4 separate regions of the Homo sapiens genome follow, and all the other regions are linked to region 1. The links come from fine-mapping of genetic effects on gene expression. A gene starts in region 1. Each other region holds a variant in brackets. All regions are shown on one strand. Distances are between the middles of the regions. Region 1 holds the start of BTBD9 (BTB domain containing 9). Region 2 overlaps BTBD9 (BTB domain containing 9). Region 3 overlaps BTBD9 (BTB domain containing 9). Region 4 overlaps BTBD9 (BTB domain containing 9).

The links. PIP is the estimated chance that this variant, and not a neighbour inherited with it, causes the effect. A credible set is the group of variants that fine-mapping cannot tell apart.
Region 2: its variant is the best candidate, but not a certain one, in a credible set for the expression of BTBD9 in whole blood (TOPMed, PIP 0.55).
Region 3: its variant is the best candidate, but not a certain one, in a credible set for the expression of BTBD9 in whole blood (TOPMed, PIP 0.58).
Region 4: its variant is the best candidate, but not a certain one, in a credible set for the expression of BTBD9 in blood mononuclear cells (TOPMed, PIP 0.67).

Annotation. Positions count from the first base shown.
Region 1 is chr6:38,637,694-38,642,322 of GRCh38, forward strand. BTBD9 (BTB domain containing 9) reads right to left here and starts at 2,236. Exons shown (of 11, transcript NM_001099272.2): 1 at 2,107-2,236. It overlaps LOC105375044 (a long non-coding RNA gene), which reads left to right and starts at 2,702. Exons shown (of 3, transcript XR_926767.4): 1 at 2,702-2,791. RefSeq lists a silencer at 1,899-2,098 and enhancers at 2,198-2,698, 2,499-2,578.
Region 2 is chr6:38,178,196-38,182,824 of GRCh38, forward strand. The region is part of intron 10 of BTBD9 (BTB domain containing 9); the gene reads right to left. It overlaps LOC124901315 (a long non-coding RNA gene), which reads left to right. Exons shown (of 2, transcript XR_007059571.1): 2 at 1-4,629. Among named protein-coding and RNA genes, the nearest start is that of BTBD9-AS1, 300 kb to the right of the region's middle. The variant C/G (reference allele first, on the strand shown) is at 1,905.
Region 3 is chr6:38,202,277-38,206,905 of GRCh38, forward strand. The region is part of intron 9 of BTBD9 (BTB domain containing 9); the gene reads right to left. Among named protein-coding and RNA genes, the nearest start is that of BTBD9-AS1, 280 kb to the right of the region's middle. The variant G/A (reference allele first, on the strand shown) is at 2,320.
Region 4 is chr6:38,170,835-38,174,834 of GRCh38, forward strand. BTBD9 (BTB domain containing 9) reads right to left here. Exons shown (of 11, transcript NM_001099272.2): 11 at 1-4,000. Among named protein-coding and RNA genes, the nearest start is that of BTBD9-AS1, 310 kb to the right of the region's middle. The variant A/G (reference allele first, on the strand shown) is at 1,895.

The sequences.
Region 1 (4,629 bases):
GATAATGAGACATGCACCACTGACTACCTAAAATACATGCACATTAGTGAGGCATCGATTCCAATTAGTAATTGAAATCAAAAGTATATTAACAACCTGATATTGGTTCAAGCGTAATATCCTTTACTTTCAAGTAAGGATAACACTTATTCTTGTCAAAGACTGTACTCTGATTAATACAACCTCTATCCCACCTTACAAGAAGGCTGTATCTTGTTAACAGTGGGATGCTGATAAGCCCGCCTTAATCCTTAACACTTTGCCTTCCCAACCTGCTAAGCCATCTCTCTCCAGTATTCCCCTATAAGAGACGTTCCGCTCCAGTTACCAGACATAAAAGTCGTCTTGGTATATCCTCCAACAACCAAATTCACATTATTATTTTCTCAGCTCCTGGTTTATTTCCTAACAAATTTTAACTTCTTTCAGAGACCAAGTCAAATCTTGCCTCTTTCAAAGAGTTCCCTAACTCAGCCTACACATCCTATCTTTTCTGATTTTCTACCACATTTATAGTCCTCAAACAGCACTGGTTACCTGCTACTTAACTTGGTTTTATAATTATTTTATACATCTCCTAGCTAGACTACTGCTCTCAAAGGGAAAAAAAAGACAGGTCTTCTATGTCATTTTTCACTCCATAATCCTCCTCCCACACCTATCATGATACTGGGCAGAGGGAGGCACATGTATTAAGTACTTGATGGACTGAACTCAATGCTTTCTATACATAGATACACCACTTGAGCATAGTGTGCTATATAACAAATATCCATTGCATGCCTACTCTGTGGCAAGCACATTTTTCCTATGTGTTAGACATAGGGCAAGGAGGAAAACACAGATGACTCCTGTCCTAAAAGCTATTACAGTGGAGGGAGGAAGACACTTTGAATTCCGAGTAATCTAATAAGTGTTACAAAGCAAGGTTATTACTGGTTCCAAGAGGTAACATACTTTACAGATTCTCAGTTATGAAACAGAATCATAGAATTTTAGACCTAAATGAGAACCTTGAACTTATTTTCCTCTATCCTCTTACACAAAACATTAGATTTCAGTACAGCCTATCTTTTCACTGGTTCTACAAATTGCCTTAATCAACAGAAAGAAAAGACTGGCTTCTTCCCTGTCTCCAATATTCCTCGCTCCCAAGTATGGTAACCACAACCCCTATACATCTACCCATGATAGAGTCCAGAGCACTGAGAAGACAGCACAGGGCTGAGGATGAGCTACACCTTTACATGCTGGGTTCTCCCATCATCAACACTTTCCGCCCACACAGTGAACAGAATCCGTATTTTCTGCCCAGAAAATAGCAGCCTGTACTGCCTTTAGGAAAAACAAACAAAACATGCTTCCATACTTCCTTGGATCTACTAATGACAAAAGCACAACACGGTTCTGGGAAATATAGCAAGATAACTAAGTCTATGAGGAAGTAAGAAATGAGGATGCCTATCAGCACCTTGGTCTCAAAATCTGTAACAACAATGTACTAAAACGCCAAGGAAACACATGCACATACATGTGAAGTTAGAAACTCTAGGCAACAGGTTGGCTGCCCCGGATCTATACTGACAGGTCGCCCTCCCAAGGTCGTGGGTGTGTCTGATGCCGCACGCAGGCACTGATTCACAACTCTCTCCATAACAACCAGCTCCTACTCAGAGGCTGGCCAGGGCAGGGGAGATGAGGGCCCCAGCAGTCCCAAACTTTCCAAACCCCCACCCCGGGGTCCCGGGTTTCGCCTCCTCAGTCCCAGGCAACGTCGTCTCAGACAGGATACGAGACTGCTAGGGAACCTGGGCTGCCCCTGATTCGAACTCCTCTCTTTGGGAGGCTGGTAGAGCCACCCCGAATCCCCGAAACGTCTACTTCCCACTACACCTTCGTGGACTGCGAACGGGACGGCTACCGCTCTCCCAGAGCACCCGGGCCCAAGAAATGACCCTCGTCAGGCCCCGTCCCAGCTCCTCCCCCGCCCCCGGAAAAAGCGGCGGAGGGGCGGGGGGCGGTGCGCGCGGATACGGCGGGGGCGCGCGTCCCCGCGCCGCAGGTGCGGCCAGGCCCCACCTCCCCTGCAAGGACCCGGCTACTCACCCCAGCGATGCTCCTCTGAGACCAAGCTGCGACACAGACGCCTCTTCCGCCCGCTCCGCACCCCTCTCTGCGCCACCGCCCCCTTGGCCGCTTCCGTGGCCGCCGTCCTCGCCGCCGCCCCGGCTGCTGCGGCGCGCGTCCGCTTTCACGCACTCCGCCGTGGCCGCGCACGCGCCACTGCGCGCTGGCGTCACTTAGCAACCGATCGACAGCGGGCTGCTGGGTCCGGCGATGCAGGCCCAGAAAGTCGCCTAAGGCAGCTTCCGCGGCTTTTTCGCATCGGCCCGACCCTCTGCCCCTCCAGAACAGGGGGCCCCAGGGTGTGGCTGCCCTGCCGGCACCTGGCTCCGGGTAAGTCGAGTCACCACACGTCACTGTATGGCGTCACCGGCGCACGTCACTACGGATGAGAAGGTCCTGGGCGCCTGTGGAGTGACCTCGTCCAGACCGCCGCAGACCCGATCGGCAAGTTCTTGGAGGTGCAGGAAGGTTCTCCAAGGAGTAGGACCAGAAAGGGATGAGAGCGCGAGCGCGGTTAATGTCGAGGCTGCTAAGTGATGCTCGTTAATTTCGCAGCAGGGTGTGACTGGCCCAGCCTTGACTCTCAGTTTCCTCTCTCAGTAAATGGGCATAATAATACCGGTCCAGCCTACGCTGGAGAATTGTGAGGTGAAAATGAAATAAGGTATGCAAAGGTACTTTGTAAGTATAAAGCCCATTTGACTTGGTGGCTCAAGCCTGTAATCCCAGCACTTTGGGAGGCCGAGGTGGGCGGATCGCTTGAGCTCAGGAGTTCGACACCAGCCTGGGTAACATAGTGAAACCCCGTCTCTACAAAAAAGACAAAAACTAAATGGGCATGTTGGCGCGCGCCTGTAGTCACAAATGCTCGGGGGGCTGAGGTGGGAGGATCGCTTGAACCTGGGGAGTTCAAGATTGCAGTGAACCGTGATCGCGCCGCTGCACTCCAGCCTCTGCAGTGAGAGCAAGACACTGTCTCAAAAAAATGTATTTATCTATCTACATAGATAAGAGTCCTAGAAATCCGGGTGCAGGTCTGACTGTAGCTGGTGTAGGAAAGTCAGTTATCCCCGACGCTGGAGCAAGCTAGGGGACCGCCCTTGCAGTTGTTGGAGGAGACAAATTGGGAAGGACTTAATTCCGGGCAAAGGAAGCTTCATGAGTAAAAGTAGAAAGTGAAAATGGTCAGGAAAAGCAAGGCTTGGGGCAGGGAGACCCATTTTTAGGCCATTGCAGTACTCCAGACAAGTGATAAGAACATTAAACAAGGCATTGGCAGTGGGAATAGAGGAGGGGATAGATGTTAGCGCCATTAAGGTGGTAGAATTCACAGCACTGAGTGCGGATAAATGAGTAGGCCAGGTTTCTAGCATGAGTGCTGAGGTAGACAGTGGTAACATTTAGCAAGATGGCAAGCTACATGAGTCTTGATTATCCACAAGTGTCTAAGTTACTATTATAGATAGTGATGGTGACATTTCTTAGGAGGATGACCAGATATGTGGAGTATGATGATGAGTTCAAATATGGATATGTTTGTTAGGGAAACATTTACTCTCCATTCACAATGTCTTTCTTCCATATGGAATGATATCCATTAGTGTAATACTCTCCTGGTTTCTCTTATACCTGTCTGCAACTCACTCTTGCCTAGAGGAGTGACTTCCTGATTGGTGAACTTAAATGGGAGAAACTGGACATGTGGCATCTATCCCATTCTTTTTCTCTTAAAAGATAACTATCTTCAGGGAACTGTCCTGGTGTTCTTTTCCGTTTCTTCTGGAGCAGGGCCTGTGGGTAGGGACAAGGGTGCCTAGTCCAGGGCTACAAAGAGAGTATATGTATTTAATTCCAGAGTTTGGCATTAGGAAGCTGTCTGTCCACAGATAATATTTAATACCAGCTTTGTCAGCTGTGTTACACAGAATAATGATCCCCCCCAACCAAAAAAAAAAGGATGACCACACCCTAATACTCAGAACCCATGAATATGTTATATTATGTGGCAAAAGGGACTTTGCAGATATGATTAAATGATGTATCTAGGGAGATTATCCTGGATTGTCTGACTGGGCTGGAGGCAGGAGGGTCAGAGTCAGAGAAGGAGATGTGATGATGGAAGCAGAGGTCAGACAGAGATTTGAAGATGCTATACTGTTGGCTTTGAAGATGGACCCAAGAAACGCAAGCAAATTGTAGATGCGGGAGAAGGCAAGGAAATGGATTCTTCTCTAGCACCCTAAGAACACAGCCCTGCCAACACCTTGATTTTAGGACTTCTGACTTCTAGAACTGCGAGATAAGAAACTTGTATGTTTTAAGGTACCAAGTTTGTGCTAACTTGTTACAACAGCAATAGGAAACTGATACAGTCAGTAATAAAGATAATAGTTGGTTTCCTGCAGCTTTCTCCATTACCTGGAAAAGAAGGGTACAATTCAGTAGGTCCCCTCAGAGACTATAGCAATATGACTGTGACCTGATGGAACCTCCACATCTAGA
Region 2 (4,629 bases), 460 kb before region 1:
ACTGTGTGGCGAAGATTCTAAGTGGAAAAGAGTGTTTTTACAAATGGATAGGCGGGTGAAGACACAGAACCTGCCATGGGTGGGGGTGGGCAAGCTACAGGTGACAGGTGGGGAGGGAACAGCCTCTGCACACCAACAGAGACAGGATGAACATCACATATGCAGCAGACACGGCCAGAGGATGACGCTGCACACGTGAGCAGGGTCAGGAGGTACACACGTACCACAAGCATGAAGCACCTCCTACGTGCCTGACTGGGCGAGGTCCCAGCTGCCCTCAGAGGGTGTACGGTCCAGTGAGGCCAGCAGACACATAAGCCAGGGAGAAGGAGCCCCAGGGCATAGAGGAGTGGGACCCAGCCAGGCAGGCGGTCAGGGAAGGCTTCCTGGGGGAGGAGACATCTGAGGTGAGTCTGGAAGGAAGAGGCAGCCAAGCTAGAGAGGATGGAGGAGGGGGGGACTTGGTGTGGAAGAAAAACAGGAAGAACTACACAGGTTCTCAAGCCAAAGGGTGGCAACAGAGCAAGGAGGGCCTGGGAGCAGCAGGGTGTGGGGGGGAGGGGTGGGGCAGAGGCCACACCCAATGGGACAGGGCGAGGGCCTGGCCTTAAGCTGGGCAGGGATCCTGATACTCTTGGACAAAGGAGGCTATTTATTTATTTATTTATTTATTTATGAGACAGAGTCTCGCTCTGTCGCCAGGCTGGGGTGCAGGGGGGCTATCTCAGCTCACTGCAACCTCCGCCTCCCAGGTTCAAGCGATTCTCCTGCCTCAGCCTCCTAAGTAGCTGAGACTACAGGCACGTGCCACCACACCCAGCTAATTTTTGTGTTTTTAGTAGAGATGGGGTTTCACCATGTTGGCCAGGATGGTCTTGATCTCTTGACCTCATGATCCGCCCACCTCAGCCTCCCAAAGAGCTGGGATTACAGGCGTGAGCTACCATGCCCAGCCTACGAGACTCTTTAAAAACTAATATTTCTTAAACTAAAAAAGTTATTTAAAAAGGAATATACATTTGTGGTGACAAATTCAAATAACAAGTATTTTAAAAATCTAGATGACAACAAACCTTTAAACCTTGGAATCCCCTGATTTAGCAATTTGGAATCAATAGGCAGGAGTCATTTTCAAATCAAGAAAGATCAGAATTTGGTAACAGACTGGATGAGACTGATAAAGGAGAGCGCCCACAATGACTCTCAGGGTTCCCTGGAAGGGACGGGGGCGGGCATACTGCGGTGCTACAGAAGGTGGCAGCAGCAGGTCCCAGGGCTCCAGTTACAGCAGCTCAGACCTGCACTCATGCCAAGGACTCTCACAGACCCTTTCCCTGCAATGATTTCACTGAGTGCAGACTCCAGCAGGTGCGCCCACAGCGCAGCTCCTGCCCTCAGGACCTCTCAGGCAGTTGGGGGCAGAGGCACCTCTGTGCAGGGGCCTGTGTTCACTCTTCTGCAAATGGCGAGTGGCAGGCTGGGAATGAACCTCAGGGCTGTGCCTTCCTTAAGCCTGGACTGTTCCACTGTATCAACATACCTGCCTCACACAAACAATTCTACCAGCACGGGATCAGTAATATTTCATACATCAGAGGTGTGTGAGAAACTAATTTTGCCTGGAAGAGGGGTCAGGGCAGGCTACAGAGAGGAAGGTGTGCACAGGTGAGGCCTTGAGGGGTTGGGAGGCAGGGAGGGGAGCTGCTTTCCAGGCAAAGGGAACGAGGAGAAGATTTCCACATAAAGATCTGGGCCTTGGCACCTCACTCCTGGCAGCCTGTCTGTAATTCACTCTGGTCACCCCTCTGTGGAGCAGTGTGCCTGCCTCAGTCATCTCTGTTGATGATTTAAGCCTAGCAGCCTTCAGCCAAATGTGGCAACTGTGTAAGCCAATACCCAGCTAG[C/G]TCCTGGACCACTCGGATGCCCATCAACATGTACGAGGCTGGGGTTACTTCTCCTGGGATCCCAGAAATCCTCAGATTTGCACGCAATGCAAATGGGCATTCGGGGGGGCCTGTGGGTGGTCCCGATTCTGTTCTTGGGAGCGGGAGTGAAAAGCAAGCCTGTCGTGGGGAAACTGGCACCTTCACTGGTGGCCACGCTGCTGGGGCTGGGCGTGAAGCTGCCTCCGGCCCTTGGAGAGGAGTGTGAGGGAAGGGAGGCGGCAGTGCTTTTTATACACAGGAGCTGGAGGAGGGTGATGGCAGCTTGGAGGAAGTCATCACTGCCATGGTAGGGGGGAAATCTGGAAATATTGGGCATGTGGCCCTCCCCTTCCCACCGTAACCCCAAGCTCCTCAGCCCACTTCTTTCCACCAGGCACCTTTGGGCTTCCCTCTAGGTGGAACAGCCAAGTCCTGAGTCTCTTTGCTCAGAAGCTCAAGTGATTCAATTTCTTTTCTCCAAACTTTCCCAAGACTGCAATACCTCTTGGAAAGGACGTGACCAAATGTGGCTGAGACACACTGGGCAGAGCCGCACTACTCATTTATGCAAAACCATTACTCTGGCCGCCGCATCAGTCTCCCTTCCCCTTTTCAGCAATCATGTATCCCATTAGCCTGTTTGATTGCCGCTGCTCACAAAGGGGCGCCTTCGCTGAACCGTCTTCAATGGCCTCTGGATCTCTCCCCTGAGAGAAGCCGGCTAATTTGGAATGTGGTCGTGTGTATGAATCCGACACAGCCTCAGTCACAATCGGGTGTCCTTTTCTGTAGCTGCTGTTTATGATCACTTTGCCTTGCCTCTCTGGGAGCCATAATTCACCACATACTGGAGATAGGCTGGGTGTTCTTTTCCCCGTGAATCCTGGACAGGATGTACACAAATGTGCTAGCCCCTTCTTGGTGACCAGGCTAATTCCTCAGTGGCTTGGTGGCTGCTGCCTCTCATTAGAGGGATTCCCTAAGCACTATTTGCTTGACAAATTTTCAAGGTTTTTAAAAGCAGAAGCCTTTGCTAATTTTCCCAAGTTGGCCTAAGAGTCCACTGTGAACTGCAGCAGAAATTGGGGAAATTTAATAAATGTTGATCAATGACTCTGCCTTGCTTTCCTGGTTCCTCCTGAATAATTTCCACAGACTGCTTTCATGCCAACCAATACAAATAGGATTTCTGATCCAAGTTTTCAACTTACAAATACAAGTTGACAAATCTTTATAAAATAGATATCTACCTCTTGATGTCTGTCCATAAGTCAGATGCAAAGCCATGACTTCTAACTTACACTCCCCTAAAGATCCCCTATTTCCCTTTCACAGTGGCTGATGTGGTGGCATCACACACCCACCCAGCGTTCAGTGACATAACAGATCCTGACGATGGTCACCATTAACATCTCTCTTATGCTCGCCTCAGAGCAGAAGGTAACAGTCCATCTACAGACTGCAGAGATGTTTTGTTTTTGTTCTTTAAAAATGAAGACGAGTGCCTCCAACAAAATATCCCTTTTGATAAACCTTGGTTTTTTATGTGCATCTGAACAGCCCAACACATTGTTTTCAGTTAGGGGCCGGGCATGGTGGCTCACACCTTATAATCACAGCACTTTGGGAGGCTGAGAGAGGCGGATCACTTGAGGTCAAGAGTTCGAGACCAGCCCGGCCGACGTGTCAAAACCTGGTCTCTACTAAAAATACAAAAATTAGCCAGGTGTGGTGGCAGATGCCTGTAATCCCAGCTGCTCGGGAGGCTAAGACAGGAGAATTGCTTGAACGTGGGAGGCGGAAGTTGCAGTGAGCCGAGATCGCGCCACTGCACTCCAGCCGGGAGACAGAGCGAGACTCTGTCTCAAAGACAAACAAACAAACAAACACAACAAAAAACAAAACTAGGAATTACTTCATAGGGAGACATTTCCAAATTGCGAGCAACAAATTTTCAGTATTGCTTAGGGTGATAGGATACCCAAATATTTTTGCACTAAGTATGGAGGTAAGTTTCTGGGTGACAATGCTTATGTACGGCAACAGCTTTTAAAAAAACTTTACAATATCATTTTCTCATATTCACATAGGCCAGGATATCCACAGATAATTGGAACTCTGATGCTTGGAAGGTTCTGGAAGAAGAGGCTTTCCAATCCCTATCACCCCAGGCAGCCCTGGAATTCCTGCCCTGTTTTTTATGTGTGTACACTCCAGAGTTCCAGGGAGAGAGTTACTTTCTTGTCTTAATGGATTCGGCTATAGAGTGGTAGAGGTATCTTTTAGTTATTTTTTTGAAAAACTAAGAAACAAAAAAAGGGAAGTGTTCTTGTTCGCAGGCTTCTGGGATGCCTGAATCTCCCCACCTGATAGATGTGGCCTCACCAGGGCCCCCTTCCCACACCAGACAGGCACCAAGAGAGCCTAGCCATGGCCCTGCTCTCCCCACAGGGCTGGCCCATGTGTCTCCAGCTGCCTGGGCGGTTCTTCACTTTGTGTGACCAGGCTCCGCATGTACCTTCTGTCTCAAAGGGCTCCAGCTGCGTCGAGGCTTCCAGCATCACCCCTCACTGCTGGCACAGCAATGGGACACATCTGAGGGGACCCTCACAAGCTGCTGTCTCCATGCGTCTCACTGCTGGGAGGCTCCTGGGTACTCATCTGCCCAGGTCTGGGGTCACTTTCTCCCAGGCCAGTTGAGGAT
Region 3 (4,629 bases), 440 kb before region 1:
GGGTTTCACCATGTTGGCCAGGATGGTCTCCATCTCTTGACCTAATGAACCACCTCGGCCTCCCAAAGTGCTGGGATTACACACGTGAGCCACTGCACCCAGCCCAAAAATGTCATTTTTTACAGAAACAGAAAAAAAAAATCCTAAAATTCATGTAGAACCAAAAAAGAGCCAGTATAGCTAAAGCAATCCTAAGAAAAAAGAACAAAGCTAGAGGCTTTGCAGTCACTACCTGACTTCAAAATATAGTACAAGGCTATAGTAATCAAAACAGATGGTATGAGTATAAAAACAGCCCAACAGAGTATACTGGAACACCCAGAAATAAATCCACATATCTACAGCCAACTGATACTCAACAAAGGAACCAAGAACTTACACCAGGGAAAGGATACCCTCTTCAATAAATGGTGCTGGGAAAATTGGATATCCATATGCAAACTGGACCCCTATCTCTCATCATATACAAAAATCAACTCAAGATTGATTAAGGACTTAAATGTAAGACCTGAAACTATAAAAATAATAGAAGAAAACATAGGGAAACCAGTTCAGGATATTGGTCTAGCCAAATGGGACTGTATTAAATTTAAAAATTTATGCACAGCAAAGTAAATAATCAATAGAGTGATAAGGTAATCTGTTGAATAGGAGAAAATACCCGCAAACTATTCATCTAACAAGGGACTAATATCCAGAATGTACAAATAAAAATTTCATTAAAAAATGGGCAAAGGACATGAATAGACACTTTTCAAAAGAAGACATACAAATAGCCAAAGGGTATATGAAAAAATGCTCAACATCACTAAGCATTGGGAAAATGTAAATCAAAACCACAATGAGATATCATCTTACCTCAGTTAGAATGCTATTATTAAAAAGACAAAAATAATAGATGTTGGTAAGAATGAAGAGAAAAAGGAACTCTTATACACTGTTGGTGGGAATGTAAATTAGTACAGAAACCATGGAAAACAGTATAGAGATTTCTCAATAAACTACTACTATTTTTCAAGCTGAGAAATAAATTTTTAAAAATCTAAAAGTACAACTATAGGAAATGGATAAATTTCTGGAAACATGCAATCTACCAAATGATCCAGCAATTTCACTTCTGGCTATCTATCCAAAAAAAAAGAAATCAGTATTTCAAAGGGATATCTGCACTCACATGTTAATGTGGCACTATTCACAATAGCAAAGAGATGGAATCAACCTAAGTGTCCATCAATGGACGTAAGGGTAAAGAAAATGTGGTATATTTACATAATGCAATACTGTTTGGCCATAAAAAAGAATGAAATCATGTCATTTGCAGCAACACGGATGAAACTGAAGGTCATTATGTTAAGTGATATCATTCAGGCCCAGAAAGACAAACCCCACATGTTTTCTCTCATATGTAGGAGCTAAAAAACTTGATCATATGAAGATAGAGAACAGAATGATAGATGCCAAAGGGTGGGAAGGGTGTGAAGGTGGAAGGGGGAAATGAAGAAAGGGGGGTGAATAGGTAGGAATTTACAGTTAGTTAGAAGAAATAAGTTCTAATGTTCCATAGCAGACTAGGGTGACTATAGTTAGCAACAATGTATTGTATATTTCAAAGTAGCTAAAAGGACTTGAAATGCTACCAACACATAGAAATGATAAATACTCAAGATGATGAATACTCCAAATAACCTGACTTGGTCATTACACATTCTATGCATGTAAAAAGCATTCACATGTAGCCCATAAATATGTAAAACACTATGTATCAATAAAATTAAAAATTAAAAAAAGATAACAGCAACTGTTGATGAAAATGTGAAGAAACTGGAACCCCTATATACTGCTTGTGGGAATGTTCAAAGGTGTGGCCACTTTGGAAAACAACCTGGCAGTTCCTCAGGTGGTTAAATAGAGAGGTGTGATATGATCCAAAAATTCTACTTCAAGATACATACCCAAGAAAAATGAAAACACATGTCCACACAAAAACTTGTTCATGAATCTTCACAGCTGCATTATTCATAATAAAAAGTGGAAACAACCCAAATGTCCATCAACTGATGAATGGATAGATAAAATGTAGTATATCCATACACTGGAATACTGTTCAGCAATAATAAGATTTTGATACACGCTATTAATATAATATGATGAACCCGCTAAGTGAAAGAAGCCAATAACAAAGGATCATGTATTGTATGATTCCATTTATATGAAATGTATAGAATATACAGACAGAAAGTAGATTAGTGGTTGCCTAGGGCTGGGGAATTAACTGGGGGGATTGGGAGGTGATGGCTATTGGGTATGTGGTTTCTTTCT[G/A]GAGTAATGAAAATGTTCAAAAATTGATTATGGTGATGGATGCAAACTCTGTGAATATACTAAAGCCATGGAATTGTGCACTTTCAGTGGGTGAATTGTATGGTATATGAATTGTATCTCAATAAAGCTGTTTAAAATGTTCAAAAAAAGACTGTAACATGAAAGATGACCAACAGCAAATAGAGAAAAGTAATGACTCAGAGGACATGGATACAGTTCAGTAAGCAGAATACAGCTTCAGGAAAAAAAAACCCTAAATTATCCTCAGAAAGATAAAAGGAAGCATTATTACATCTTTGAAATAGGAATAAATAAAATGATATGAAAAAATAACATTTAGTGAACAAGAAAGTGCTCTTGTAAATTAAAACTATGAGCGACATAAATAATTCAACAAATGGGTTAGAAAGTTAAGTTGAGGAAATTTCCCAGAATGTCAAATCAAATGACAAAGATAAAAAATAGAAGAGAAAGTATAAGAGAATAGAAGAATCAAATGAGGAATTCCACCATCTAATTTAGATGTTCCAGTAAGAAATATGATGTTCCAGAGAAAATATGAGCTAGGAAAGTGCCAAAGTCACACAACAAATTTTCCCACATATGAAGGACATAAGATTCCAGGTTAAAGATCCTACTAAGTAGCCATTACAAGAAATGAGAAAAGATCCGCACCAAAGTATATTATTAAGAAACTTTGGAAGATCTTAAAAGTTCTGGAGGGGGAAAAAGCAGGTCATCACAAAGACCTGGGAATCAGGTTCACATAAATTTTTCAAAAGCAACACTGGGGGTGAGAAGATAATAGATCACTTCCTTCTAAATGCTGAGGGAAAAATTAGTGACCATTCCCAGACAAAGTAAATGAAGTATGAGAACAGAATAAAGAAATTGTCATTCAGGCATAAAAAAAATTCACCTTCATCCTCTCTTTGTATTTATGCGAAGAAAAATAAAAATAATAAAATAAAAACTTCACCTCCAATGCATTCACAAGGAACTACCAGAAAATGTGTTCCACCAAAACAAAGGACCAACTTAAGATAAAGAAAGTTATGGGATACTATCACTTGAGGCCAGGAGTTCGAGACCAGCCTGGCCAACATGGCAAAACCCCTTCTTTACTAAAAATACAAAAATTAGCCAGGCATGGTGGTGCGCACCTGTACTCCAAGCTACTCAGGAGGCTGAGGCATGAGAATTGCTTGAACCTAAGAGGCGGAGGTTGCAGTGAGCCAACACTGTGCCACTGCACTCCAGCCTGAGAGAGCAGGAGTCTGTCTCAAAAAAAAAAAAGAAAGAAAGAAAGAAAGGAAGTTATGGGATCCACAAAACAGAGAATGTGAAATGGAATAAAGGCAAGAAGAATTCCTAAGATAATGGGATGGGAGATCCCAGGATGAGAGCCGTAAAACAGGCCCACAGGACAACTAGTCCAGACTGCAGAGGGAAGGCGGGCAGCTTATGGGAACATCTCAAGGGAGAAAGAGAAACTAATTGACCAGATGTATTAACCAGGTTACAAGAATTTGTGTTGCTCTGACAACACAAATTGTGTTGTGGGGGAAGAATCAGTGATAGTACACAGAAAATTAATGAAGGATAGGTATACAGAAAACTAAGCAATTTTTTTTTTTTGGAGATGGAGTCTTGCTCTGTTGCCAGGCTAGAGTACAGTGGCATGATTTTGGCTCACTGCAACCTCGCCTCCCAGCTTGGGAGGCTTGAACCCACCTCCCGGGTTCAAGCAATTCTCTGCCTCAGCCTCCCAAGTAGCTGGGATTACAGGCACCTGCCACCATGCCCAGCTAATTTTTGTATTTTTAGTAGAGATGGGGTTTCACCATCTTGGCCAGGCTGGTCTTGAACTCCTGACCTCACGTGATCCACCTGCCTCAGCCTCCCAAAGTGCTGGGATTACAGGCATGAGACACTGCACCTGGCCACTTTTTAACTCTAGGGAAAACAAATGATAAAAAAAAAAAGGTGATCATAGTACACTACATGGCTTGGCTCTGAACGATAGTTACATAGTCATCCTAATGCCAACAAGAAATCTGATACAAAGAAAAACTGTGATTTAACTAAACAGGAGGATGAAGCAGACAGGTGCATGTGTGTACTTGCAAGGGCAGAGGGCAATGAAACTAAATCCTTATCTTTCAAAGTAGGAACACAATAGATAATTCCAGTAATGTAATTAGGAAATAGCAGAATAAGCACATAGTTTAGAATATGAAGATACAGACCAAAAAAAAAAGAAGTCTAAAAGAGATGAATATGTTTGCCTCAAAATCTAAAAGTCTGACC
Region 4 (4,000 bases), 470 kb before region 1:
TGCCCACCTCTGCCACGGCATCGCTGCAGACCTGCCCTGCCCGGGCCGTGCCCGACCTGGGCATCGCTCGGAGGAGCTGGTCACCACATAGAAGGTAAGATTAAAATAATAACACCGACAAGCAAGCACTAATGAGGAAAAACTCCTGGAAGGAAGCAAATTTAATTTTCTTTTCCTCTTTGACACCTTTCTTCCCTGTCCAAAGGGAGGTTCTTAATTGAAGTCTGTGAGGGGAGCGCTCCATCTCTTTATCACCAAGTGGCCTCAGTACACAGAACGCTCGCTTTTTATTGTAGATTATACCTTCCTTTTCCCCCTTGGCTCTGGAAAGGATAAGTGATTACAATTTTGTTATCTTCTAAATTAAAAAGAAGGTGAAGTTGACTGGGCTGGAGCCATCTGCACAGCAGTTTGACAACTGGGGCGACAGCATAATACTGGGCAATTTTTTGCACAATTCAAAAGCTTTTTTTCTCTTTTTTGCCAAGGAATCAGTTTAACAAACATCCTACTCTTGCTGAAAATAATTTCTTTTCCCAACTCTTCTAGGAATAAAACACTTTTAATGTATTTGTCAGGAATCGACACTTCATTTAATAGGATTTAAAAAGTGACAATTTAAAGAGCAATTGAGAAGAGTCCCACATCCATCATGGCTTGTGCTTCTAACTAAAATCAAAGGAATGAAAGCAGAAAAAGCACTGAGAAAATGGTAAAACGGGTGTGTGTGTGTGTGTGTGTGTGTGTGTGTGTGTGTGTGTGTGTGTGTGAGAGGGAGAGACGGTGGGGGCGGGGGGTGGTTCATAGCTGCTTCAAGTCCAAAGTGCTCACAACGGCTCCTGTGAGACTGCCCTGCTGGGTGCTGGCTGCATGGACACAGCTGCTGCCCAGCACACACCCTACCTGCCCTACACTCTCAGTCCACCCCAAATGACCCTCCCCAGAGCTGCCAGAAGGTGACTTTGAAGGCTTTTTTCCCCAAAAGCTCCAATGAAGTTGCCTTTCTACTCTCAAAAAAAAAAAAAAAAAAAAAAAAAAAAAAAAAAAATAATAATAATAATAATAATAATAATAATGAAAAGTGAAGGGTGGGGGTGCTGGCCACCTCCCATTTCTTTGCCTGGGTGGTGGTGACCATGGCGCCCTTGTGTCCTTTCCATTGGTTACTGAGGACCATTGCCCTCATGGGCCCAGGCCACAGGCACCCACCTGTCAGCCTCACCTGCCACCTCTCTCCATGTTGGCTTGTTGCCCCTGGGGCTGGCCTGGGCATGGGGGAGCTTATCTCCCCGACCAGGGGCTTGGCCATGTCTCCTTCACAACCCCCGCTCCCCACGGACTGAGCCTCCACTCTCTGCTGGGCTGAGGGCTCTGTGGTGCCCAGGAGCCCTCCCAGCCACGTGCCAGCCCATCCCATCATCAGCACTTGCTTTTAGCTTCAAGTGTTTAGGTCGCTTTGGTCCTGGTGGCCCAGGGGAGAAGTGCTCTGTAGGACCAGCCAGGCTCTGGGGAACTCCAGGCTGCCCGGGGACTTTCTGGTAGCCACTCACTTGTCCCTGTTCCCTGGAGATGAGGTCCTTGCCCTGGTGTGTGGTGTGACACACCTTGACTTGGCCTCCAGGCCCAGCTGGACACACGAAAAGAGTTCCTGCCCCAGTCAGAAGGCCCCTCAGGGAAGGGCAGTACCCCTCCAGCCTGGGAAAGGAGGTGAACCCGTGTCCTTTTGGAGTCCAGGGCAGGCTCCCAGCAAAGCGAGGGGGAGGCGAGCTGGCAGCGCGGCTGTGAGGGAATGAGACTTTGCCATCAGTCCTCACCAATGACATCTACTGTTAGTGCCACCCCATCGTCCCCATACTTCTCTTTATCTGATGATAAGGGGCATCTTTAAAGTGCT[A/G]GAAGACAGGAGGGACAGAGATCTGGAAGGGCATGCCCCGAAGGAAAGAACCGCCACAGGCCAGGGAGCTGCAGATGTGGGTCTAGGGCCGAGGCTTTGCAGCGTATTCCTTTTCAGATGCGAGGCCGAGCTGCCAAGCTGCTATCTCGTTCCCGGAGCACAGGAGGGCTCTGCGTGCTCTGTGGGCAGGGGACTGGAGGGTTGCAGATGCAGGGCCGGGCAGCTCCTCCAGCACCCCCACCAGCCCACCCTCTCTTCCCAAGGTCAGCAGCATGCTGCTTCAGGCCAAGGGCCTCTGGGCAGGTGATGCCCATGTTTAAAAAGAAGCATGTGAATGGCTCATTTCAAAATGTTTGAACTCTGCCCTTGATATGACTGTCTGGCTCCTTTGTCCCCATCTGGGTAGAAAACACACTGGGGAAGGAAGTGCTGTGTGTGCAGGAGCTCTCTGGCTAATTGGCAACCCGGGGCTGGGGGCTGACAGAGTCAGCAACCATGCTGGAGGGCCCCCCACTGTGAGCGGGCGCCCACCGTTCCTTACAGGAGCCTCCTCCCATTATGAAATGCCTGGCATCCCAGGAGTGTTCCACTCTCCCACACAACAGGGAAGTGGCAGAGATCAGAGCTGAGGGGATAGGAAGCAGCTCAGCCCTGCAGCTGGAGCTACCGGGGAGGATGGAGAGCTGCAGACCCTGGCTTCTCCTCAGGAACGTGTCCACCCTGCCCCGGTAGCCCTCTGATGTCTGCCATCCTGTGTTCACACGGAAAGACAGTCTTCCAATTTAATCACGCAGTTTGATGCTACCCTACTATTTCCATATGGACAAATCACTCAAAATCAAGTTAAACTAGGAGGAAGCGGCTGACCCGTTGGCTCTTTCTAGAGCGCAGCTGATATGTCTTTGACACACCTGAAAGGAAACTCCCACGCCCTCACCCTCCTTTGATCAGGGTTGCAGGTTGGCGCCGAAGACCCAAGGACTGCAGTGCTGCTCACGTGCCATGCCGTCCTGGGGAGACTCCCAGGCTGATGCTGATGGCGACAGAGGCCGGAGCTCTGGGGACAGCGGAGGGGCAGGCAATGTTGTGCGCAGTTACCCAGGGCAGGCAGCACTGGAATGGAAATCACTAAGTAGGAGACGGAGCCACATCAAGCCACCATCGTCAAATGAGGTCCTTTTGATGAGGATTAGGAGAAAAGCTTCTTGGAACTGCTATTTTTCAGTCCCCAGTTGAGTACTGTGGTGTGGGGGAAGCACGGAGTCCCAGTTCTGCGTTCCTGACGCTGATGGGCAGGTGGCTGCCTCTCCAATGCTTCGATAAACACAACTGGAGGGGCAGCTAAGCCACGGCAGTCCCCGGCAGGTTTGGCCACGCCAGAACTCGGTATATGTTTATCTACATGGACTTCGGAACAGTGAATTAGCAGCGGGCATAGTAACTATTTCCTTGTCAGCCTCCCAAGCTTAAAGGCTGGATCCATGTCAGGAATGACAGGTGAGTAACTCAGCCACACGAGTGACTATTAACTCCAGTGTCCACAGGTTGATTTGCTTGTGTGCATTTGTGGCACTTCCTCTGTGGCCCAAGTGCCAGGATGAGCTGCATCCGTGTCTCATTTAGGAGACATGCACGATGGGTCTCTGTCCCCGCAAGCTGAACCGTTCAAAACCAAGGAAGGAAAATTATAGCATCAAAAGGGATTAAAACTAGTGATTTGCTGTTTGAGCATTTCAAATAGATCCGGAACACCTATGATTCACTGAGTGGAGAATAACTAAAACAAATAAAAAATCATTTAGTTGCCAGGGCAATGTATTCCAGCAGAATGAACACTCTATGGAGGCCCATTCCTAAAGGGTGCCTCCAGGTAGCAAAGGCCCAATGGCTTTCTCCTCCGCCTGAGTGTTTGCGTGCCATTTTTGTATTCCAACACAGGCCTGTCTATGACTTCCTCCTGTTCCCTGCGCCTGGGCTAGATTAGAGAGGTAGGGTGTTAATGGTGGACTTGATGAAGATTGAAGACCCATTTTCTCCCCCTTGAGACCTGCCTGATTTGGATAAATTGAGAAGAACAAAGCAGCCCCTTTCTGTCCTTGGGAGAAA